Regions from separate parts of the Homo sapiens genome. Here regions 2, 3 and 4 are each linked to region 1. Evidence: fine-mapped expression QTL. A gene starts in region 1. Each other region holds a variant in brackets. All regions are shown on one strand. Distances are between the middles of the regions. Region 1 holds the start of CMTM8 (CKLF like MARVEL transmembrane domain containing 8). Region 2 overlaps CMTM8 (CKLF like MARVEL transmembrane domain containing 8). Region 3 overlaps CMTM8 (CKLF like MARVEL transmembrane domain containing 8). Region 4 overlaps CMTM8 (CKLF like MARVEL transmembrane domain containing 8).

Region 1 (5,922 bases):
AGTTTTCAAGCAACCAGTGTATAATTTTTTCTCTGTGATTCTGAAATCCCAAAAGCTGAAACCAAAATTTTTTTTCCTGAGCTTGCAGAAAACATATTTGGTAGAAAAACATAACCTAAACAGATGTGAAGCTATTTATTGTCTTTGTCTTTATCTCACCTAGATTAAAAGACAGCCACAATTCTTTACTGCTCCTCCCATCCACAGGTGGTATCTGTTTCCCCTCTGCGTGACTCTGGCTGGCCTTGTCATTCATTGGCTTAGACCAATAGAATGTGGTGGAAATGAGTCCGTGTAACCTTCAGGGCTGGGCCTTAAGAGATCTGCTTCTGCATTTGCCCCTCTTAGAAAGTCTCTTCCAGTAGCCAGCTGCCAGGTAGAAGTCCAACCACCATGAGCTTATCATACTGTTAGAAAGCCCAAGTTGAAAGGGCACTGAAATGCTCAAATGGGAATGAAGACTTTTTGGACTTTCTGGCCCTGCCAAGTCACCAACTGAAAGCAGCTGAGTAAATGACTCCAATCACACCATGCAAAGCAGAAGAACCTGCCAGCCAAGCCCTTCCCAAATTCCTGACACAACAGATTTCTGAGCAAATAAAATGGTGATTTTAAGCCACTAATATTTTGTGAACATTTATTACATTGCAGTAGATAATCCAAGCATACACTTATGTCATTCATGATTTCCCTTGCAGAAAATTAGTATATTAGAGTGTCACCCCAGACCTTACCAAAGGTATTATGTAATATATGGTACATGCACATTTTACCTTTCTAAATTGAAAAACAAAATCTGAATTTAGAAATTCATCTGACCCCAGGAATTTTAAGAGAGGATTGTCCTTTGTTAATATTATGGAAATAAAGTTGTCTAGACTCCGTCTTTTACGTTCACTAAATGTCATGCATAATGCTTGAGTCTCCTCCAGCCATTTCATGTATGTATCTCTTATTTCCCCAAACTCATTAACAGTTTCTCTAAAGCAGCAGCTAACTTCAGCATGCATCAGTGTCTTTTGGAGGGCTTGTTCAAACACAGCTTCCTGGCTCCACCCTCAGAGTTTCTGATTCAGAGGGTCTGGGGGTGGGGCTTGAGACCTTGCATTTTTGATAAGTTCCCAGGGAACTTACCTGCTGTTGGTCCAAGGACCACTTTGAGAACTACTGCTCCAGGGAGAAGTGCTATATTTTAAATTTTAAGAATTTACCCACCAGCCCAAGGTGCTTACCAAATGCACATGGATGGAATCTCTCCAAATCTACATCTTTGCCATGCTTTTGAAGCCTTAACTTTTACTCCTGGAGGTCTTCCTGGCTAGGCCCTAGACTTAAAAGACACTAATTCCTTGTTTTATTTTATTAGATTGTCGTTTTTGCTTTCTTCTCAGCACACTTGATAAGACACTGTGAAGAAAATGTCCCTTCTGATCTCGTTTTTAACCTGTCTTGGAACAGATCAGCAGAAATGCCTTCACTGTGAATCAAAGATACCCTCGATTTATAGCCAAAGATTATTTCCTTTTCTTTTGGTGGCTTCCAGATAAAATGTTTCTTGCTACCCTTTCACAAAATAGAAGGAGGGACCAAGCGGAAGATAATCTTTTTGTTCAGAGGTCCATCTGTCAAAGCCTGCATTTTAGAGATGGCATTACTGAGGTCCAAAAACTAGAGCCACTCGCTCTGGGTCATACAGCCGATAAACGCACGCAGCCGAGCTCAGTTCTTCCCTGACCCTGTTACAAACTGCCTCACTAAATGAGGACCCCCATCCCCTTCCCATGCCAGGAAAGCACAGCTCATTTGTCCTAAAGTTAACATTACACAAATCACACCCTTCAAGCCTTCTTGAAACATTTTTTTTCCCCGAGGGTGACGGGACGGTTACGCTGATTCATCCTGGCCAGGGACCCCAAACATCTCCCCTCCTCCGGCCCAGGCGCCGTCACCCAGGCTCCACCGGTCCGCGGGACAGAGCCGCGGAGAGCGCCTGGAAGCGTCGCGCCCTCAAAGCCAAGCGATTAAGTTGGTTCCTCAAATTGTTCCCGACAGGAGGGGCAGGAAATAACACCGGGCTCTGGCGGCGGCCGCAGCAGGAGGGGGAGAAGAGCGGGCCGTCTCCCGGGCAGTGCTGGCGGCCTCTCATCGATCTCGGGTCTAAGGTCCGGCCGGGTCATCATTCCTGCCATTTCCACAGCATTCGAGGTACCACATCACCCCCTGCCTCGGTCGTCGCTCAGTCATTCCCTCCGCGCCGAGTCCTGGAGCGGCGGAGTCCCTGGAGGCCTGGGTTTCCTTAAGGGGCCCCAATGCCCGCAGCCCCCGACCCGCCCAGGTGGAAGGAAACAGGCTGCGGGCCTGGGCCAGGCGGGGCCTGACAGAAGTAAAGGCCGGGAGGGGGAGCGGAAGACGGCCAGAAGGACCCCTGCGCCCTCTCCTCCGCGCCGCCCGCCAGGCTGCCAACCCAGCCACCCTGGGTGCGACGCGGCGCCTTCTCCGCCGCTGGGAGTCGGGCAACAGGTGAAGAGGGCGGGCGTCCGCGGCGCCTCCGCGGGGCGGTCCCTCTCCTGCCCGCCTCCCGCCCGCCCCTCTCCCCGCCCCCTCCCCTCCTCCGGGCCTCCACCGCCTTCCCCGGCTGCCCGGCAGCCTCCCCTCGCTCGCTCTCCTCTTCCTCTAGGGCCCCAGCGCAGCTCGGGAGCCCGCGCACCGAGGCGCTAGGGGCACCGCGCACTAGAGGGACACCCGCCGCGCCTGGACAGCCCCCGGCGGGCGCCCCCCTCGCACCTCCTGCCCCGCGCGGGCCGCGCTCCCCTCCCCCGCGCCTGTGTCCCCAGGGCGCAGGGCCGCGCGTCCAGCCCCAGACCCGCCGGGGTCCCTGGGGACGCGCCAGCCCGGCAGTGGCTCGACGATGGAGGAGCCGCAGCGCGCCCGCTCGCACACAGTCACCACCACCGCCAGCTCCTTCGCAGAGAACTTCTCCACCAGCAGCAGCAGCTTCGCCTACGACCGGGAGTTCCTCCGCACCCTGCCCGGCTTCCTCATCGTGGCCGAGATCGTGAGTGCCGACGGGCCGGGGGTGGCGGGGGGCTCAGCTGGACCCCGGCGCGTGCTTCCGCCGTGCTTCTCGGGATGGAGCCTGCTCAGATCTTCCCGCGGGCTTTAGGGAACCGTTTTTGCTCAGCCTCGCCTTCTTCCCAAAGTGAAAGACTCTAAACAAGGTCCAGGAAACTCGGGCTGTCCTGGGAAGAAAGGGTTGTGATCCTCAGGATGTCTTGCTGTGGGAGAAATTCAGCTTGTTGGGTCCTCTCGGTGGCGGCGGCAGATCCTGGGAGCAGGAAGCTTGGCTTAGTGGCTATTGAGTTTGTGTTGAGTGTCAGAGACACCTGGTGCCTTTCTCACCTGATCTCCACGTGGATGGCCTCCTCCCTGAAAATAAAGCTTCCTAAGATCAGGGGAAGAGGAAAGGGCTTCTTTCTTTTCCTAATTATCTCCCTGGTAGTAACATTGAGGTGAGTCAGGAAAATTTTACTGAATAAAATCTGAGTGCCATAACCTATTTTAGGACCAAAGAGGTCTTTTGCATGGTGCTGTGCACATCCTGGTTTAGGCTCAGAACATTCCTGGGAAGGAGGCAGGGCATGGGCGTTCTTCTCTTCATTGGAGGGCATAGAGGCTGAAAACTCACGTGATCTTCCCAGAAGTCCCAGCCAGTCCTTCATAGCTGAGAAAGGACTGGAGTCCTGTCAGCAGTTAGAGGTGGTCACTGTTTGAGTCTTCTTCGTGTACCAGGATCTTGTCAAGCCCTTTAGATGTCCTCATACCCTCGTGTAATCCAACGACCACCCTCCCCTGTGAAGGCCTAGAGAGGGGACGTAAATCACACCGGTGGATGGTGAAGCATGGATTCAAACCCAGGCCTGCCTTTCTGCAGGGCCGTGCTCATAACTGCAAGCAGTTGAGACAGCTTCCAGCTGCCCCAGCAGTGCCCCTCTGTCATCTCTCACAGACTTTTGTTAAATATTTGGGAATTGAAAATGAGCCTATGTGGGAGTTAGAGAATGGGCACACCATCATGGTGCAGAAGTGACTGAAGACCTGGGCGGTTCCTTTGAGAAACCTGAAGTAAATCTTGTGTACCTCAAGTAGCTTGCTTGCTCCCCCAGTCTCAGATACCACCCGGACCTGCTCTATGAAGCCCCTGGTGGTCATAATGCACATAAGGTATGAGAAGTGTTGGCTTAGCTCCTCTCCCAGCTGGTTCCCTCAGCGAGTATTGAGGACTTCAGGAGACTCAAAAGCTGAAGGTATTGGAATCGCCTTGCAGGGCCTAGCTTTTAGGAGTTCAACAAATATTTGCTGTGCAAATGAAGGAGTTGGCAGGCTCCTCTGCTTCAGCAGCGCAAACAAAAGCTAAAATGACAGAGATGGGCCTTCTACCTTGGGGTGGATTTGGGCCAGGCATGAAGTATAACGCCTTTGGGTTTTTTTCTGATTTATTATCGATATGCTCTGTGTACTGCGCTTTTTCAGGAAATACAAAAGTGAAAGAAATGTAAGTGGCCCACAATCCCATTACTAGAAATAATCACTGTTGACATGTTAGCATGTATCCTTTTAGATTTCATTAAGCGTTTTGAAAAAGATGGGAAAACATGTAAGCAAAATCACCCTTATTACTACTATAGTTTTTATTTTTGACAGAGCTAATTATGCACCTTTTTTGTTTGTTTTGTTTTGTTTTGAGACAGGGTTTTGCTCTGTCTCCCAGGCTGAGGTGCGGTGGCACCATCATGGTTCACTGCCGCCTTGACCTCTTGGGCTCAAGCGATCTTCCCATCTCAGCCTCCCAAGTAGCTGAGACCACAGGCATGCACCAACACACTTGGATAATTTTTAATTTTTTTCTAGGGACGGGGTCTCTCTGTGTTGCCCAGGCTGCTCTGAAACTCCTAGGCTCAAGCAATCCTCCTGCCTTGGCCTCCTAAGGTGCTGGGATTGTAGGCATGAACCACTGTGCCCCACCTTATGCACATATTTTAAAGATTCGGTCCTACAGGCAGAAATATAAGTTTCTCCCAGTGTCTTCATCTCTTTGAGCTCTAAACAACGTGTTTATAATGCTGTTTATTGGTGTTCCCTCACCCACCCAGTCATAGACATTATCCATTGCCTTTCTACTCTGAAAGATGAGGCTTTAGCTGGGATGCCCTCTTCCCTGCCTCCAATTATACATACCCTCTTCCTGTCTCCCAATATAGGTCCAAACACTTCTGATGGTTCAACTTAGGAATTTTCAGCTTTACAGATGTTGTAAAAGCAGTATGCATTCAGTAGAAATCATACTTCGAATTTTGAATTTTGGTCTTTTCCCAGGCTAATGATATTCGGTAGATATTTTTTCATGATGCTGGTCAGCTCTCAGCCACCCATGCCATCACCAGCGCAAACCACCCATCCTCTCCAGCATGCTGTGCTGCTGGGTGATTCTGCCAGCTGTAGGCTAACCTAAGTGTTCTGAGCACGTTTAAGATAGGCTAGGCTTAGCTATGATGTTTGGTAGGCTAGGGGTATTAAATGCATTTTTGACTTCGGATACTTTCCACTTAGGATGGGTTTATCAGGATGTAACCTCATTGTTAAGTCAAGGGGCATCTGTATAGTCTTCAGGTGATTTGGGTTAGATCAGCAGCCAGTGTTGACCTATGACACTGTAAATACCACTTACAACTGACCCAGTGCGTAGACTATGAATGCTTTTCCTTTCCTGCCCAATTTCTTGTTTGCCCTGGTGTTAGTAATTCTCTTTTCTCATTTCATAATTTCTCCAGATATTTAGTCACTAATTTAACCCTAGTTGTTTAAGTCTCCTATCAAGAAGCTGAGAGACATCAGGTATTCTGTCAGAATCGTCTTCATGACTGG
Region 2 (5,922 bases), 20 kb after region 1:
TTTAAAATTAATTCTTTGAGGATATTGTTCCATTGTCTTCTAACATCCAGTGTTTTTTGTTTTTTGGTTTGTTTTGTTGTTATTAGGGTGTCACTCTGTCACCTAGGCTGGAATGCTGTGGCTCAAACATGGCTCAATGCAGCCTCAGCCTCCTGTGCAGGTGGGATCACAGGTGTGCACCACCAAGCCTGGATAATTTTTTTTTATTTTTTGTAGAGATAGGAGTCTCACTTTGTTGCCCAGGCGGGTCTCCAATTCCTGGGCTCAAGGAAGCCTTCTGCCTCGGCTTCCCAGAGTGCTGGGATTACAGGTGTGAGTCACTGTACCTGGCTGCATTCAGTGTTGTTAATAAGAGACTTGATGGTCTGGTAGTATCTAAACAGGCCTGTTAGGCTCAGTACCTCCCAGACCTTGTCCATTCATGAATGTGCATTCCCACAGACTTCGTTACAGCAGAGTCTTGTGTGAATGATGTCTTGCACTACTACCCATGCAAATGTAGCACTGGTGGTGTAGCAATAAATTGTAGGTGAAATGGGAGTGTTATATACAGGAGAAATGGCTTATGAAAGGCAGTTTTGTAACCATGTAAGATAATTATAGGGAAGTTTCTTCAGGTTGATGTGGTTTGGAATAAAAGATTGTTAAAGGCTTCCTTCGAGTTTCCCAAGTCCTGGTGGGATCTCTCCCTGCCCTCACTCTAATCTGGGAGGACTTAGGGAGACAAAGTTCCTTCTCTCAAGACAGCTCTAGCCTGATATTTCCTGGTGTTCCCTGCTGAGAATATATTCCTTGCATCTATTGCAGTAAACTGTAACTTCTATAATGTTTGTCAGAGGGCTAGCTTTCACTGGGCTTCAAATCCACTCCTCTGTGGGAATCAGGTTCTCTTTTCCTTTTAAGTAACTAAATGGTCTTTTTTCCCTCCCTAGAAGCTTTTGAAATTGTTTCCCTATCTTCAGGGATCTATGGTGATATCTCCCTAGATACCACTGTATGTCTGGAAGAAGCATGATCTCAGATCACTGCAACCTCTGCTTCCTGGGTTCAAGCAATTCTATGTCCCAGTAGCTGGGATTACAGGCATGGCCACTATGCCCGGCTAATTTGTGTATTGTTGTTAGAGACGGGTTTTTGCCATGTTGGCCCAGCTGGTCTCAAACTCCTGACCTCAAGTGATTCACCCACCTCAGCCTCCCAAAGTGCTGGGATTACAGGAGTGAGCCACAACACTGGAAAGGCATTCTTTATTTGTCCTCCTTGCCACTTTTTGGGCTCTTTATAAGTACTATACAAATCTAGCTTCGGCATAGGGAGATTTCTCTTATTTTCTGCATTGGTTCTTTGTTTTCTCCACTAAAGGAATCTTTATTCAATCCAGGAGGTCCAGGAGAGATTAAACTGTCTTCAATATCTCCTAATTTTTCTTTCATATTTCTCTTTGTACTTTGCAAATAGTGTAATTTTCTAGAAAAATTACACTTTAAGCCCAAATTCAAATTTCCAGTTAAGTATGCTCTGCCTTTCAACCCATCTATTGCTTTATTATGGTTTTAATAGTTTTAATTCCCAACAATTAGTCATTCTAAAATGTTTGCTTTTAGTCTGATCTCTTTTTTATTGAATCACTTTAAGGATCTTGAGTGTATTTTCTTTGTTTACCGAGAGACCACTTCTGCTTGTTGAATCTGTTGCTTCTCCTGTGCTGTTTTCTTCAGTCATTTGGTGATTAATGGTTGTCCATGTTTGTAATAGTAGATGAGATGACTGGAGACTGTTTGCTCAGCTTAAGTGAGAATCTCTGTACCTCGGCAGTGAATACAGGTTTTCATCGTGTGATATGCATCTGGTGGTTTTTCAGAGGAAAGGAAATATTGGCAGGGCTGGGAGGGGGAAGCTAGGGTAGTGGGGCTGCATGGGCTTTCTTAAGATGTGTGCAAATAGCTTATTGAAGCATCTGGAAATCTCAAATCTTTATCCTGGGGACTATTTCCAGAAGTCGCTGCTGGAGGGAGGGGGGCTTTAAATGTACTCTTTAGCAGATTACCCTTAACTCATTCCCTCTCCAACTTTGGTTATTGCTTCTAATCTTTGGTTTATCTGGGGGTCTGTTTGGAGGACTGTTTTTTTCAGTAGGTCCTCTATTTTCTGCTCCAGAGCTGCAGACAAGAAACTCCCTTGCTTATCATAGTTTGTTCTCAAGTGCCTTCCAGGAAGTTCTCACTGCTCCAGACTGCTGTTGCTGCTTTCTAGCTTTTCGGCACTACTACGTATTTTTTTAATTTGGGAGTGGGAGACATTTCAGTGGAATTTGGGAAGGATAAAGAGGTCCTAGCTACAAAGAAGTTCAGTAGTTTTGTTATTCACTTATAGACATTTTGAACATATATAAGGAATAATGACCCTCTTTCTGTGTTGTGAATATTTTTTCTAGCTTGTCCCTTAGTTTTATTTACAGTGCTTTGTTTTTTTTGTTTTGTTTTGTTTTGTTTGTGATAGTCTTGCTCTGTCACCCAGGCTGGAGTGCAGTGGCATGATCACAGTTCACTAAAGCCTCGACCTCCCAGGCTCAAGTGAGCCTCTCACTTTAGCCTCCTGAGTAGCTGGGACTACAGGCATGTGCCACCATGCCTGGCTGATTTTTTTAATTTTTTGTGGAGATGGGGTCTCAGTTTGGTGCCCAGGCTATTCTCAAACTTCCGGGCTCAAGCAATCCTCCTGCTTTGGCCTCCCAAAGAGCCATAGTGACTTTATTTACAAAATCTAAAGTTTATCTTCAAATCTCTCAGTCTTACTGTTTTCCCCATGTTGGGTGTCATCCTTAGAAAGTACTATCTCACTACATGTCGGCAAAGCCTGAGTTCTGTCCCCTCGCTTCCCCACCCCACTGCCCCCGGACAGCGTGAGCTTCACCACTCGTTCCACCTTCTCCTCCAACTGCCAGTC[C/T]GTGGGCTCTGTCCAGGGGCCCAGCTACTGGCATCCAGCCAGTCAGCAGTGCAGCAAGCATCTATGCAGGCGCCGGAGGGCAGGGGGTGGCTCTGGTTCCCGGATCACCGTGTCCTGCTCCACCAGCTTCCAGGGTGGCATGGGGTCCGGGGACCTGGCCGCAGGGACGGCCAGGGGTCTGGCAGAAATGGGAGGCATCCAGAGCGGGAAGGAGACCACGCACAGCCTGAACGACTGCCTGGCCTCCTACCTGGACAAAGTGAAGAGCCTGGAGACCGTGAACTGGAGGCTGGAGAGCAAAATCCCCTGAAGGGACCCCAGGTCAGAGACTGGGCCATTACTTCAAGACCATCAAAGACCTGAGGGCTCAGGTCTTCTCAAATACTGTGGACAATGCCCGCATTGTTCTGCAGATTGACAATGCCTGTCTTGCTGCTGATGACTTTAGAGTCAAGTATGAGACAGAACTGGCCATGTGCCAGTCTTTGGAGAATGACATTCATGGGCTCTTCAAGGTCATTGATGACACCAATGTCACTCGGCTGCAGCTGGAGACAGAGATCGAGGCTCTCAAGAAGGAACTGCTCTTCATGAAGAAGAACCATGAAGAGGAAGTAAAAGGCCTACAAGCCCAGATTGCCAGCTCTGGGTTGACCGTGGAGGTAGATGCCCCCAAATCTCAGGACCTTGCCAAGATCATGGCAGACATCCAGGCCCAATATGACGAGCTGGCTCGGAAGAACTGAGAGGAGCTGGACAAGTACTGGTCTCAGCAGATTGAGGAGAGCACCACAGTGGTCACCACACAGTCCGCCGAGGTTGGAGCTGCTGAGATGCCACTCACGGAGCTGAGACATGCAGTCCAGTCCTTGGAGATTGACCTGGACTCCATGAGAAATGTGAAGGCCAGCCTGGAGAACAGCCTGAGGGAGGTGGAGGCCCGCTACACCCTGCAGATAGAGCAGCTCAACGGGATCCTGCTGCACCTGGAGTCAGAGCTGGCACTGACCCAGGCAGAGGGACAGCACCAGGCCCAGGAGTACAAGGCCCTGCTGAACATCAAGGTCAAGCTGGAGGCTGAGATCGCCAGCTACCATCGCCTGTTGGAAGATGGCGAGGACTTCAATCTTGGTGATGCCCTGGACAGCAGCAACTCCATGCAAACCATCCAAAAGACCACCACCTGCCGGAGAGTGGATGGCAAAGTGGTGTCTGAGACCAACGACACCAAAGTTCTGAGACATTAAGCCAGCAGAAGCAGGGTACCCTTTGGGGATCAGGAGGCCAATAAAAAGTTCAGAGGTCATTGGAAAAAAAAAGTATTATCTCGCTAACAAAGCTAAATATAATGAACTATACGTTAATATTTTGCCTATATTTTTCATGTGCTTTAAAATATTTAACTTTAATATTGAAATGCATTTCAGCAGAAATATAAAGTTGGGCTCTAATTTTGTTTTCAAATGTCTACTCAGTTGTCCCAACATTTCATATTGGTAAATTCATTGTACATTCCCTTACCTGGATTGCTTTCTGTTTTTCATTTACTACTTGTATGTGCTTGGGTTCAACTGTATACTTTCTAGTCTGTTCTACTCTTTGTTTCAATGTTTTAATACCTGTAGTTCTAGATTACATGTTAACATCTGATAGGATAATCTATCCCAGCTGTGATTTTTTTAAAGTTTTTTTTTTTTCCCCCTGTTTTCACATGTTTATATGTTTCTTCTTCAAGTAGAGCTTTATAATTTTTTTCACAGTCACAGCTGGTGCCTCCTTTCCTTTGTTAGATTATATTGGATTTTTATATAACACATAGATTAATTTTGGGAAAATCATTTTATACTACCCTAGTTCCTAAGAGGGAAACTTTTCAGCTATTTCTTTGTCTCAGGTTATGTCTTAGTATTCATTCTTAAGCTCCTCAAGGTCTTTCCCAGTCTAAAATGCTATGAAGGTTGGATACAGTGGCTCATGCCTGTAACCCCAGCACTTTGGGAGGCCAAAGTCAGAGGATTGCTTGAGGCCAGGAGTTTGAGACCACACTGAGCAACGTAGCGAGACCATGTCTCTACAGAAAATTTAAAAATGAGCCAGGTGTGGCGGTGCATGACTGTAGTCCCAGACACTTGGGAGGCTGAGGCAGGAGGATTGCCTGGGCGACAGAGTGAGACTGTGTCCATCTCAAAAAAAAAAAAAAGAATAAAAACTAAGAAAACAAAATGCTATGAGTTTTACAATCCAAGTTAATAATACATATCTTGTGTATTGTCATAAAAATGTGTTAAATATTTACCGTGTGCCAGAATCTGTGTCTAGCCCTTAGAATATAGTGGTAAATAGCACCTTTCTATGTTTATTTAAACAAATGATCAATTATAGGAATTAAGACATGTAAAGAAAAATATGCTTAAAAATATATTAAATTATAGTAGGAAAAACTCAAGTTTTCAAATTTGAGGTGAAATTCAAGAGGCATTTATTCCTTGTAGGCATTTGGTCCTTTATTCACCCCATAGAGAGGGTTAAATCTAAAATTTGACAGGAAAATACCATTTGTTTGTTTGTTTTTGCTAAGATTTATGAGTAGCACTGTTTCTAGGAAGGTGCCCGTACTTTTCCTTAGATGAGCACTCTACCATTTAAAGGGTTTTCACGTTCATTGTCTCAGTTGATAATAAACCAGTCCCAGGTTATGGGGAATCCCTCCTTTCTTTCATTTCCATTTCTACTTGAACCATGATTTGAGGAAACAGTTCTTAAATAACACATGAATGAGTCAACCACACCCTTGTGGAGTTCAGTGTGAAACAAATGCCATCCGATTGCTTGTCCATCCTCTGTACACACCCATGAGATTCATGGTGCCAGCCTAGTAATATGTCCCTTTCATGGGAAAGTAGAATATTCATTGTCTTAGAGTTCAACTGAAGATGACAATCTACTGTAGCTGGTTGAAGCCGCAAGGGATTTATT
Region 3 (5,922 bases), 63 kb after region 1:
TAGGTGCTTATGTACCTGGGGTACATGAGATGTTTTGATGCAGGCATGCAGTGCGTAATAATCACATCTTGGAAAATGAGGTATCTATTCCCTCATGCATTTATCCTTTGAGTTACAAATGATTCAGTTATACTCTTCTTTATTTTTAAATTTATAATTAAATTATCATTGACGGTAGTCTTCAAGAAAAATGTACTTGAAACTTAGAAAAAAGTTCAGGAAGATGACTGAGTGCCCTTTTAATATCCTACTAGAACATTGTCTGACAAACCCAGCAAAGATCATCTAATAATCTAGGGGAAAATGTAGCAATGTTTTTCTGCAGACTGCCAGATAGTAAATATTTTGGGCTTTGTAGGCCAAAATATGTACTGTCTGTAGCTACTTAACTCTGCCATCATAGTGTGAAAGCAGCCACGGGTAATACATAACTGAATGGATACAGCCACTGTAGGTGCTGAAAAGGGATGATGCCTTTCTTCTCCATCATAAAAATCATGGCCAGCACCTCTATAACAAAAAGGTTAACAGACAAAAGCATAACACATTTCTTTGATCATACTTTTGCGTGACACAGCAGTCTTCAGATCGAAGACCCAAAGATACAGGGGAAGCTATCCATTTTTATGCTTCAGTTTGATGATGAATGGATAGCTGTGTGGAACTGTGGTTGGACCAAAAGGGTGTGATCTAATGCTAATAGGCTGAGCGGGGGAACCCAGCAAGGGCTGTCTGTTCAGATTCTTCTTGGACTCTCTGCAGCATAATTTCCTTCCAGGTATGGGGCAGGACCCTTTCTGGAATGGGGGTCTTATGAACTACAACCAAACAAGGTCAGTCAGATTATTTCTTTGTGGCCAATTCTTACACAGAAAAGTAGGGGAAATTTTTAGATTTTATGGCTGGCTTTGGGGAAAAGGGTTTTGGTTTCCATGATCTCCATTGGGGAAGAGGGATTCTAATATCTGTGCTTGCCTTTTTGGGGGAAAGGGGGAATGAGGCTGAGAGGCAAGCAGGACAAGGTCAGAGAAAAACTGCTTCTGAGCCCTTACTTTAGGGTATTGTCTTCTGAGCCCTAACACTGTTCCAATAAAACTTTATTTAGAGACACTGAAATTTGGATTTCATAGCATTTTCATATTTCATTTTATGTTATAAAATATTCTTTTAGGCTGGGCACGGTGGTTCACGCCTGTAATCCCAGCACTTTGGGAGGCTGAGGTGGGTGGATCACCTGAGGTCGGGAGTTCAAGACCAGCCTGACCAACATGGAGAAACCCCATCTCTACTAAAAATACAAAAAATTAGCTGGGCGTGGTGGCACATGCCTGTAATCCCATTTACTTGGGAGGCTGAGGCAGGAGAATTGCTTGAACCTGGGAGGCGGAGGTTGTGGTGAGCCGAGATTTTGCCATTGCATTCTAGCCTGGGCAACAAGAGTGAAACTCCATCTCAAAAAAAAAAAAAAATCTTTTAATTTTTTTCAACCATTTAAAAATATAAAAATCATCCTTCACTTGCAGGTCTTATAAAAACAAATGGCTGAGATTAATAAATTGCAAATGATTTTTGTCCAGTTAAGATGGGAAGGATTTCTTATGGCAGAAAAGGAGCATCAGGGGTACTGCTATATGCCAGGTAGGACATTAACCCGGTTTGTTTCTAAGTTTCCAGCCTTATCCCGGCATTCATCTTTCCACAGATTTTTTGCCCTACTTAGGTTTCTGTGCCATCCACCTTTGAGCCAGCTTTGTCATTCTGCTTAAGTTGACAAACTCATCAAGTTACAGAATCTTTAGCATATGCATACTCTATATGAGTCAAGAGCTGACCTTTTCAAAAAAAAATTATACTTTGACAGCTGTATATATATATATAAAGCAACATAAGACATTTTAAATAACAATATATAAATTTCTATCCTGTTGTTTTTAAAACTAGAAACAGGGCAATTAAATAATCATTCAATATATGGGCAAAAGGATTCCACCTTATCTTTCCCTCCTGCCAGTGGTGCAGAAAGTGGTCAAGGGAGAGTGGTGGATGAAGAGGGATAGGGGAGACACAGCCCTTGGGAGGGGTCCTCTGTCTACCTGGACTTGATCAAGCTGCAGTATGACTCATCCCGGCATCGGTGACATTGCACTGGGGATTCCTGAAATCTCATACAGTTTTCCATGAATGATTTTGGTTTCCATCCAGCAGTTCTTATCATTGATATGAAACAAAAAAAAAAAAAGAAAGAAAAATAGTATTTTTCAGAGGGCATTGGTGTGAAAAGGCAGGTGATGTCAGAGAACATTGGACTGAGTGTCAAGAGGTTTCCATTTCGAGTCTGGCTAACCAGCCATGTGACATTGGGTAAATCACAGTACTTTTGTTTTTGCATATGTCAAATGAAAAGCTTGAATTCATAGTCATTAATATTCTTTCTGGTGCTAAAATTTTTGCAACAAAAATAGAATAGACCCAAATTCCTTTCGGTGGAATTAAGAGTGATCACTGATTGCTGACTTTTTTTTTTTTCTTAATAAGAATAGCATAGGCCAGACATGGTGGCTCATGCCTGTAATCCCAACGCTTTGGGGGGCCAAGGCAGGAGACCAACATGGGCAATTCCTGTCTCTACAAAAAAAAAAAAATTTAATTAGCTGAAATGTGGCACGTGTCATAACTACTTGGAGGTGGGGGCTAAGGTGGGAGGACTGCTTGAGCCCAGGAATTGGAGATGCCGTGAGCTATGATTGCACCACTGCACTCTAGCCTGGGTGACAAAGACCTTGTCTCAGAAACAAAACAAAATACCCCCACAAAATAACTACCTTGAAGTTAATTCTTTATTGGAACAAGTAGCACAGCATTGGATAGAAAAGTACAAAATGCAATTTTCTGCCTCTGTATGCTGTTCAGTTTATGGTTGTTCCCGACATCTTAGGTCACTTTCCAGTTCAAAGTTAGTTTTAAGTCTGAGAGCAAAGATTTCCTTGCCTAAGGGAGGATTAGATGAAACAAGGCTCCCAAAAGGCGATTGGCCCCCTGACAAAGCTGGAACAGTGGTGAGACAGATGGAAGTAGAAGAGAAGGAATCAGAGGCCCTTTTGAATTTAGAAGTGGACTTGTGAGTGCTAGGATTTCCCTGGGTTTTTCAAGCCCAGAGAAGAAATTGGAGCAAATTTCACAAGGCATGGGTTTTTCACCTATTTGAGGAGGTGAGGGATCTGTTGAGAAAAGAAGAAAGCTAAGGTCCCTCTCCTTGGAAACCTGTGCGCACACACACGAAGTGTATGAAGTACCTGTGCGCATACACACCAAGTACCTGAAGTCTGTAACTTCAGGATCTTTTAAGACCCA[T/C]GGCATGAAGAGATTGGCTGAATTTGAACAAAGGAACCCTGGGGCATTAGATGTAGAACTTTGTTGTCTTTGGAGAGAGACCTGGTCTCACACTTAAATACCCAGGTGGCCCCATTTTGTTTTATTAAACCAATTTCGTCTCTTTGACCCCCAGCTCTTACAATCACATGCCCGATTGCACAGCTTTCTCCCTTCCAGCAAATCCTTTTTGATCACTATTACATAAACTCTAAATTGAGTGTCCAAATTGCAGGCGTCTAGGATCCAAAACAAATGTAGGTTGCAAATAAGTAAGGTTTTTAAAAAAGATCTTTGTCTTCTTAAGTTGCTGATAGTTACTGCTTGCTGGGAACTGTAGGCCTTTCCTGGCAAGATTTCTCAACATTCTCTTGAGAGCAGTTGTGTTAACAAGTTATGAAGATTACTTTAATGCTTTGCTTGGAATTCATTTCGTATCTGCATAAATCTTCAAGGCCATTATCATATCAGTGAGATATTTCTAGTATTTTTGAGAACTCTGATGCATCAAAATGTCTGAGTTCAGCTCGTTCTTAATGTGGTGACAGGGTCAAATGTGTTGGTTTAGATTCAGGTGTTTCGTTTTTGTTTTTATCTTATGCCTCCAAACACTTAAAAGTAAATTGGGTCGCTTATCTTCAAATTTGAGGCAGGAAATACTGTTTGGTTCTCATACTTTCTTCCCGTATGTTTCATTTCTGAAACATTCTGGCTTGTTTACACATTGATGGTAACCGAGCTTCCCCCCTCCCCCTCCCAACTGTAATTTTGAAAAATTTCAAATCTGCAGGAAAGTAGAACAATATAGACTCCTTCGCTTAAATTTTGTAGACTCCTCACTTACATTTGCCAGCTCACATTTTTTTACATCTGGTTTCTCTCGCTGTGTGAATGTGTGTGATCTTATTTTTGTTGTGGTTGTTGTTAAACCACTGGGAAGTTGCAGGCCTGACATTTATTCCCTAGGTATTTCAGTATGTATTTACCAAAAATCATTAAATAACTATTAAATTATTTAAATTAATTGTAATACCTTCATCACACTCAAGGAATTTAGCATCAATTCACTAATATGTGATGCAGTCCATATTCAAATTTTCTACTTTGTCCCAAGAATGTCCTTTACTTCAGCCTTTTGTTTGAGGATCCAGTCAAGGATCGACAGATTTCTTTTAGTTGCCATGTTTCTTTAGTCACCTTTAATCTAGAAAAATCCTCAGCCTGTTAGACCATTTGGGTAAGAATACAGCCCAGGTGGTGCTGGCATGTATCTGGTTGTGATCGCATGATAATTGGTTGTACCAAAATCAGTGTTGCTAAGTTTGGTCACTTAGTTACAGTAGCATCTGCCAGGTCTTATAAAAGGGACCCTATTCTCATGTAAAAGTTTGGGTGTTGGCAGGGGGCTGAAAATGGGTGTCCTATTCTGAGACAAGGAGAATGAATTTTCCCCCAACAGCCTTGGCCTCTCTGATTGTAACATCCACTGATGTTCTTCTCAGCTGTACTTTGATTTGTTGTTGGAGATGGCATGGGGGAAAGGAAAAGTATAAAGGAAATGTATTCCAGCAGATCTTTGTAGAATCAATTCCATTGCTCCTTTATTTGTATAGTTACAAGAAATGAATGATGTGAGTGCTCTGTATTTTCTAGATTGTCATACTCAATCTATATGAACAAAAGAAGCTTAGTTTACTTCTGTCTCTCCATAGAGAAACCTCCAAGGCAAATATTTGTCTGGAGTTAGTAGCCTGCAATGATTACCGAAGGTCCAGATGAGGTTATTAAAATGCCTGGTGTTTGCCCTGGTGGCACACACAAGATAAATGAGGCAGAATTCTTTCAGCTTGGTTACATGTTGGTTTTTCATGTTCCAGTTAATAGTACAGAGTAGGAACATCTGCTTTAGCAGGTCCAGCTAGATAAACAGCTTCTGCAGTATAACAGAAATCAGCAGCCTATGCCATTGACTTAAGGAGACAGATTTAAACTTTGTAAATAAAAGGTTTGACTAAAGCTTATGAGGAGGAATATTTCTGCATAGATGAGAAAGCTCAAGTGAATTTTGTATTTAATCTTTCCCCATAGGGTAGTGAACTAAAACATTAGTTTTGGGCTAGTGGCTGAGAACCATCTCTTTAAGACAGAAATATTTTGGCAATCTAAATCTCCCTTGGGCGGCATTAGGTAGAGAGTGATGTAATTCCTAATCTCAAACATTTTTGTTTCAAACATATTAAATGTTTCTACAAAGCCATCTTCGAGTTGTGGCTTTATGGACTCAAGCGGCTAAGGCAGTGGTTCTCAGTCAGGGTGCAGTTTTTTTCCCTAGGGAACATTTGGTAATGACTGGAGGCTTTTTTTTTTTTTTTTCAGACGGAGTCTCGCTCTGTCACCCAGGCTGGAGTGCAGTGGCGTGATCTCTGCTCACTGCAAGCTCAGCCTCCCGGGTTCACGCCATTCTCCTGCGACTGGAGACATTTTTGATTGTCACAACTAGGAGGGTGGTATTGGCATCAGGTACAAAATGTCACTGATGGCAAGGTTGGAAAA
Region 4 (5,922 bases), 42 kb after region 1:
TATTACCCGAAGTTATGTTACTTGTTCCAATGAAGTCTTTATTTTGGAGAGGCCTGTGGACCAGAAATGATACTGGGCCCCAGACCAGTTGTGTTGGCCTATACAGTGTTGAAAATCAGAATTAGTTGCCAGTAAGTAAATATCAGATATTATAAGAAAATCTAGATTTCCATGATCTCTTGGAAAATTGGACAAATGCACAATACTGAGCCCATAGTTCCTCATGGCAGTAATCCTTTGGAGCCAAGAAGTGGCTGCCCTCTGCATGTAAGAGTGTTGGTCAAGATGCATGTTTGACTGTTGTGACAAAGACCAAAACAAGTGGCTTAAACAAGGTGGAAACTTGTTTTTCTGTCATGACAGTCAAAGCACTAATTGCCCAGGGCAGACATGATAGCTCCGTGGTGTCAGAGACGCTGCCCACTTCTGTCGGTTTTCCCTGTTCTCTGCAGTGGGTTCCATCTTCTGATCCAAGATACTGCTTCATTTCCCACCATCCTGTCTGCTCCAGCCTTCAGTAGGATGGAGAAGTAGAGGATCCCTTTCTTCAAGATCCAACCTGGAAGTTACATGTATCATTTCCTCTGGCATCCTGTTGGTCAGAATGTACAGCATGGCCACATCTGACTGCAGATGAAGCTGGGGAAATGTGGTCCTCATCTACGTGGCCATGTGAATAGTTAAAACCCACTTCTTACTAAAGGCAGAATGTGAGAGCGGATGGTATGGACAAACTATATTCTGTGCTGTGAGGGGCCTTGCAGTCACCTATTTGCTGCTATTCTCAGCTCTCTCCAGTCTTCCCGTAATTGAGGTCAAGAGTCATTGTCATTTATTTTCTTGTAACTGATGTGTTTCACTCATTTATGTTACCTGCTTGGTCCCTGTAGGCATTTGAGTTTGCATTCTCAGCTGTGCCCTGATCATCTCTTTCAACACACCTCCATGCTTTTATATTTGTTGCCGCCTCTGTTTAGAATTACCTGGCCTCCCTTTCAGGCCTGGCAAACTCCTTCTCAGGATAACGCAGCCCCATGCTTCCCTTCCCAAATTGAGTTATCTCTGTTAACCATCCTAATATATAAGCTGCCAATTTTACATAATACCTTTTAGTTTACTTACCTTTATATACTTGATGCCCAGAACAGCACTGGGTACATAACAGACTAAGGGTCAGTCCTGTTTACTGAGTGTTCATTCAGTGAAAGACACTTCCTAGAACTTAAAAGCATTTTTAATATCTAACAGTGAAATAGTGTATTAGTCACAGCCTGTACAGCTGTAGATGATGGAAACGTGGCTAAATTGGCTTCCATGACAACAAAAAGGAGGAGCACTTACTGGCTCGTGTATCTGACAAGCTGAGCTATGTGTCAAGCCTCAGGTATGGCTGGAACCAGGAGTTCAATAGATAGCAGGACTCAGTCTCTCTTCTCAGTGTCTTGGCTGTGCTTTCTTCTGAATAAGCTTCATTCTTAGAAAGAGTTTCTCTGCATGATGATGACAAAGATGCCACCCACGGTTCTGTATTTTTCTTATAATTAGTGATTTTTTTTTTTAATTTTTTTTTTATTATACTTTAAGTTTTAGGGTACATGTGCACATTGTGCAGGTTAGTTACATATGTATACATGTGCCATGCTGGTGCGCTGCACCCACCAACGTGTCATCTATCATTAGGTATATCTCCCACTGCTATCCCTCCCCCCTCCCCCGACCCCACCACCGTCCCCAGAGTGTGATATTCCCCTTCCTGTGTCCTTGTGATCTCATTGTTCAATTCCCACCTATGAGTGAGAATATGCGGTGTTTGGTTTTTTGTTCTTGCGATAGTTTACTGAGAATGATGGTTTCCAATTTCATCCATGTCCCTACAAAGGACATGAACTCATCATTTTTTCTGGCTGCATAGTATTCCATGGTGTATATGTGCCACATTTTCTTAATCCAGTCTATCATTGTTGGACATTTGGGTTGGTTCCAAGTCTTTGCTATTGTGAATAATGCCGCAATAAACATACGTGTGCATGTGTCTTTATAGCAGCATGATTTATAGTCATTTGGGTATATACCCAGTAATGGGATGGCTGGGTCAAATGGTATTTCTAGTTCTAGATCCCTGAGGAATCGCCACACTGACTTCCACAATGGTTGAACTAGTTTACAGTCCCACCAACAGTGTAAAAGTGTTCCTATTTCTCCACATCCTCTCCAGCACCTGTTGCTTCCTGACTTTTTAATGATTGCCATTCTAACTGGTGTGAGATGATATCTCATAGTGGTTTTGATTTGCATTTCTCTGATGGCCAGTGATGATGAGCATTTTTTCATGTGTTTTTTGGCTGCATAAATGTCTTCTTTTGAGAAGTGTCTGTTATTAATAATGGGAGACTTTAACACCCCACTGTCAATATAATTAGTGATTTTTTTAAGAAACCATAAATCTATTGCTTCATAGTGGTAACCAAGCACTTCGTAGTGGCCACCAATCAGGAGGAAGTCCCTGATTGACCTAGCTCAGGTCACATGGCCATTCTCAGTCCAGTCAATGTGGCCAGGCATAAGTGAGGGGGGAGAATAGGGTCTGGAAGCAGGGAACCTAAGGCTGATTCACGCTGATTTCCTAGAATGGAATTAAAAGGAAAACCCCAACTTTCCATGCCCAAGTAACAAAAGGATCATAAGCTACTTCCTTTGCACCCCCACCCACTTTTTCTTCGTGGCAGATGGAAAATGGAAAGTACTCTGATTGGTCCCCTTCTGCAACCAATCAGACTGGTCGTGGGCCTAGTCTTTATTTGCATAGGGGTATAACTTTGTAACTTCACTTCAGCCTTTGATTGGTTGCCTTCTGCAATCAATCAGACTGGTCATGGGCCACTTCTTTATTTACATAGGCTGTAACCAAGTAACCAGTGAGAAACCTCTAGAAGGTATTTAAACCCCAGAAAATTCCATAACCAGCATGCTTGAGCCCACTCCCATACTGTGGAGTGTGCTTTCGTTTCAAAAATCTGTAGTTTCATTGCTTCATTTGTGTGTTTTGTCCAATTCTTTGCTCAAAGTGCCAAGAACCTGGATGACTCACAGTCAAGACCCGTCACTGGTAACATAAGTAGTCTGGCCATACCTGGGTCATCTGTCTACTTCTGGTACCTGGGGTGGAGTCGACCCTACTCAAATTACATTGAAGGAAAGGTAGGTCTCCAACACGAGAGAAAATAGGCAAAAAAAAAAAAAAAAAAAAAAAAGTGACAATTATATTTGGAACTACCTTTGTCTCATTTTATAAATAAAGCAGCTGAGGGTGAGAGAGATTATCGTGACCTAAGGTCACAACCAGGAGGCGGCAGAAGTGGGATTCACACCAGATCTTCCTGACTCTAAATGGTAGACTGTTAATTCAGTGCACCCAACTATTTCTGAAGGGAGTTATCCTGGAACTCCCCAAGCCCCATCTCTGCATGGGGACAATCCTGAGGTTTGATGCTCCTGTGTATGACTATTAGTATGTAGAGATACCTTGTAGGCCCACCATGGCAGGATTTTGTGTAGGAGCACATGTTTAGCTGTAAGCTCTGTTTTCCCTGGCACCTCTCTAGTGGCTACACTGTACC[T/C]GAAAATATTTCTCTTACCCATCAAAAGAACTCTTTACATTAATAAAAGTTGGAAGAGTCAGGCAGCTGGATTCGTCTCTTCTCTTGGAACGTTTTGATTAATTTAGCACATGCATTCTCATCAAGGGGTGGTGTTGCTTGCAAGGGAGCAAAAACTGGTTCTTGGGGGTAGGGAGGGAAATCTTACCTTTTTTAAATGAATAAAGTACATATATACATGTAGTATCTAAATAGACAGTTTATCTGAGATGTTAAAATTTCCTGGAGATAATATGCTGTGATGAATGCCATCTTGAAAACTGTAACATATCTTCCCTCCAGAAGATATGTCCCTCATTCTTCAACAGTTGTCACCTTTTTTCTCTGCTCCACCTTGCAGCAAAACTTCTTGAATGAGTTGTCTTTATTTCCTAATTCCTCTCATCCCACCTGCTCCTGACTGAACCCTCTCCAATCAGCCTTGTCACTAGTCTACCCAAACAGCTCTTACCAAGGGCACCAGTGACGTCTGTTTTGCCAAGCCAAATGGTCAACTTTCAGTGCTTATCATACTGAGCCTGAAGGCCACATTGACACAGTTGACCCCTCCCCTCAATCCTTTAAATATCTTATTTTCTTGGCTTCAAAGGTCACTGTCCTAATTTTTTTTTCTTATCTCACTGGATGTGTACCTCATCTTCTTTCCTGGTGCCTCCTTATCTCCCCAACTGTAAATACAAGAGTGCCAGGGCTCAGGCCTTAGAACATTCCTCTTTTCCGTCTACACTCATTCCCTCAGAATCATGGCTTTCAACTCTCTCTATAGGTCCTCATTTCTAGCCCCAGCCTAGACTTCTCCCCTGGATCCCAGATTTGTATCTGCCCACTCACCATCTCTTCTGATATGTCTCATAGGCAACTCAGGCTAAGTATCAGTTTTGGGTTAATACAGAGAACAGAGAAACATATTAAAAGAACCCATGAGGACACAGTCAGCAAAATCTAGATTGTGTGTACGGGACAAATGACCCAGTTTTTTCAAAAAATAAATTTTAAAGAAAAAGGAATAGAGGAGATGCCTATAGATTAAAAGAGATTTATGAGATAAAAGTCAGTTGCAATATATGTACCATATTTGGATATTGATCCAAGCAACCATAAAATAATTATGAGATGATCAGGGTTATTTGAATATTGACTGGATATTGGATATTATCATTAATTATTTTTAGCTATGAGAATGGTGATTTGGCGATATTAGAAAAAAATTAAAAAAATATATACCCAGAATGTTATCAATTCTTACCACCTGCAGTATTATCACCCTCAGCCAAACTAACATCCTCTCTTGTATTATTTTTATATTGCCTCTTAGCTGATTTCCCTGCCTATAACCGACCCCCTACACCGGTCTGCTCTCAGCACAACAGCCAGAGATATCCTGGTAAGATGTGTCATGATATTCCACTTCCCATTGCATTTGGAGTGAGAGAGCCAGTCTGTTCAGTTTCAGTCTGCAAGACCCCATGGGTTCCTCCCTTACCTCTCTGACCTTATATCCTGCGCTCCACTCCTGGGTGAGCTGCTCTGGCCCCCTTGCTGCTTTTGTGACACAGCAAGCATGCTCCAGCTCTAGGTGTTTGTATTTTCTCTTCTCCCTGCCTAGAACCCACTTTCTCCAGGTCTTATTTCAGCACCTCCTTTCCCTGAACATTCTGTGTAATAAGTTAACCCTTATCTCCTTAGCCTGCCTAGTATTTTTCCATAGCATTTGTTACCATCTGATGTATGTACTGTTTTTTTGGTCTGATGCTTCCACTAGAACATGAGTTATGTGAGAGTAGAAACTGTATTTTTCATTGCTGTATCCCTAGTACTTAAATTGCACATAACACGCACTAAATAAATGTTGAAAGAAAAATAGTTTTTCATACAGGGGGAGGAAATGTTTATAAATGCTTAGGGGGAGCATGATAATGAAAAAAGTTGAGAATCCCTGCTTTAGCCTTGGGAAGCATGTGGTCATCTTGTCCCTGCTATTACTGTTGTTACTGTATTTACATTTCTCTGTCTTTTCCACCTTGGGATAGTCCGTTTTATCATGTTATAACGTGTCATACAGCAAAACTTTGTGAATTGGCTCCAATTGGGGGAAGAGTCATTTGAGTTTCTTCTCTTCAGACTGAGCGCTTGCTATCTGGCTTCTGTGCTGCAGTCGGGGAGCTCACATCGCAGGCGCATGTAATGTGACCAGCACGTCCCCCGGGAGTTAGCTTCCTTCCCCATGCATGAGCTGGAGCCTGCGGAACAGGATGGCGACAGTTTA

What was found.
Region 2: its variant is fine-mapped to the expression of CMTM8 in whole blood (TOPMed, PIP 0.93).
Region 3: its variant is fine-mapped to the expression of CMTM8 in whole blood (INTERVAL, PIP above 0.99).
Region 4: its variant is fine-mapped to the expression of CMTM8 in whole blood (TOPMed, PIP above 0.99).

Annotation. Positions count from the first base shown.
Region 1 is chr3:32,236,065-32,241,986 of GRCh38, forward strand. It overlaps CMTM8 (CKLF like MARVEL transmembrane domain containing 8), which reads left to right and starts at 2,616. Exons shown (of 4, transcript NM_178868.5): 1 at 2,616-3,055. The coding sequence starts at 2,909. RefSeq lists a silencer at 2,420-2,629.
Region 2 is chr3:32,256,038-32,261,959 of GRCh38, forward strand. All of the region lies in intron 1 of CMTM8 (CKLF like MARVEL transmembrane domain containing 8), which reads left to right. It also overlaps the pseudogene KRT18P15. Among named protein-coding and RNA genes, the nearest start is that of CMTM8, 20 kb to the left of the region's middle. The variant C/T (reference allele first, on the strand shown) is at 2,947.
Region 3 is chr3:32,299,507-32,305,428 of GRCh38, forward strand. All of the region lies in intron 1 of CMTM8 (CKLF like MARVEL transmembrane domain containing 8), which reads left to right. Among named protein-coding and RNA genes, the nearest start is that of CMTM8, 64 kb to the left of the region's middle. The variant T/C (reference allele first, on the strand shown) is at 3,352.
Region 4 is chr3:32,277,620-32,283,541 of GRCh38, forward strand. All of the region lies in intron 1 of CMTM8 (CKLF like MARVEL transmembrane domain containing 8), which reads left to right. Among named protein-coding and RNA genes, the nearest start is that of CMTM8, 42 kb to the left of the region's middle. The variant T/C (reference allele first, on the strand shown) is at 3,618.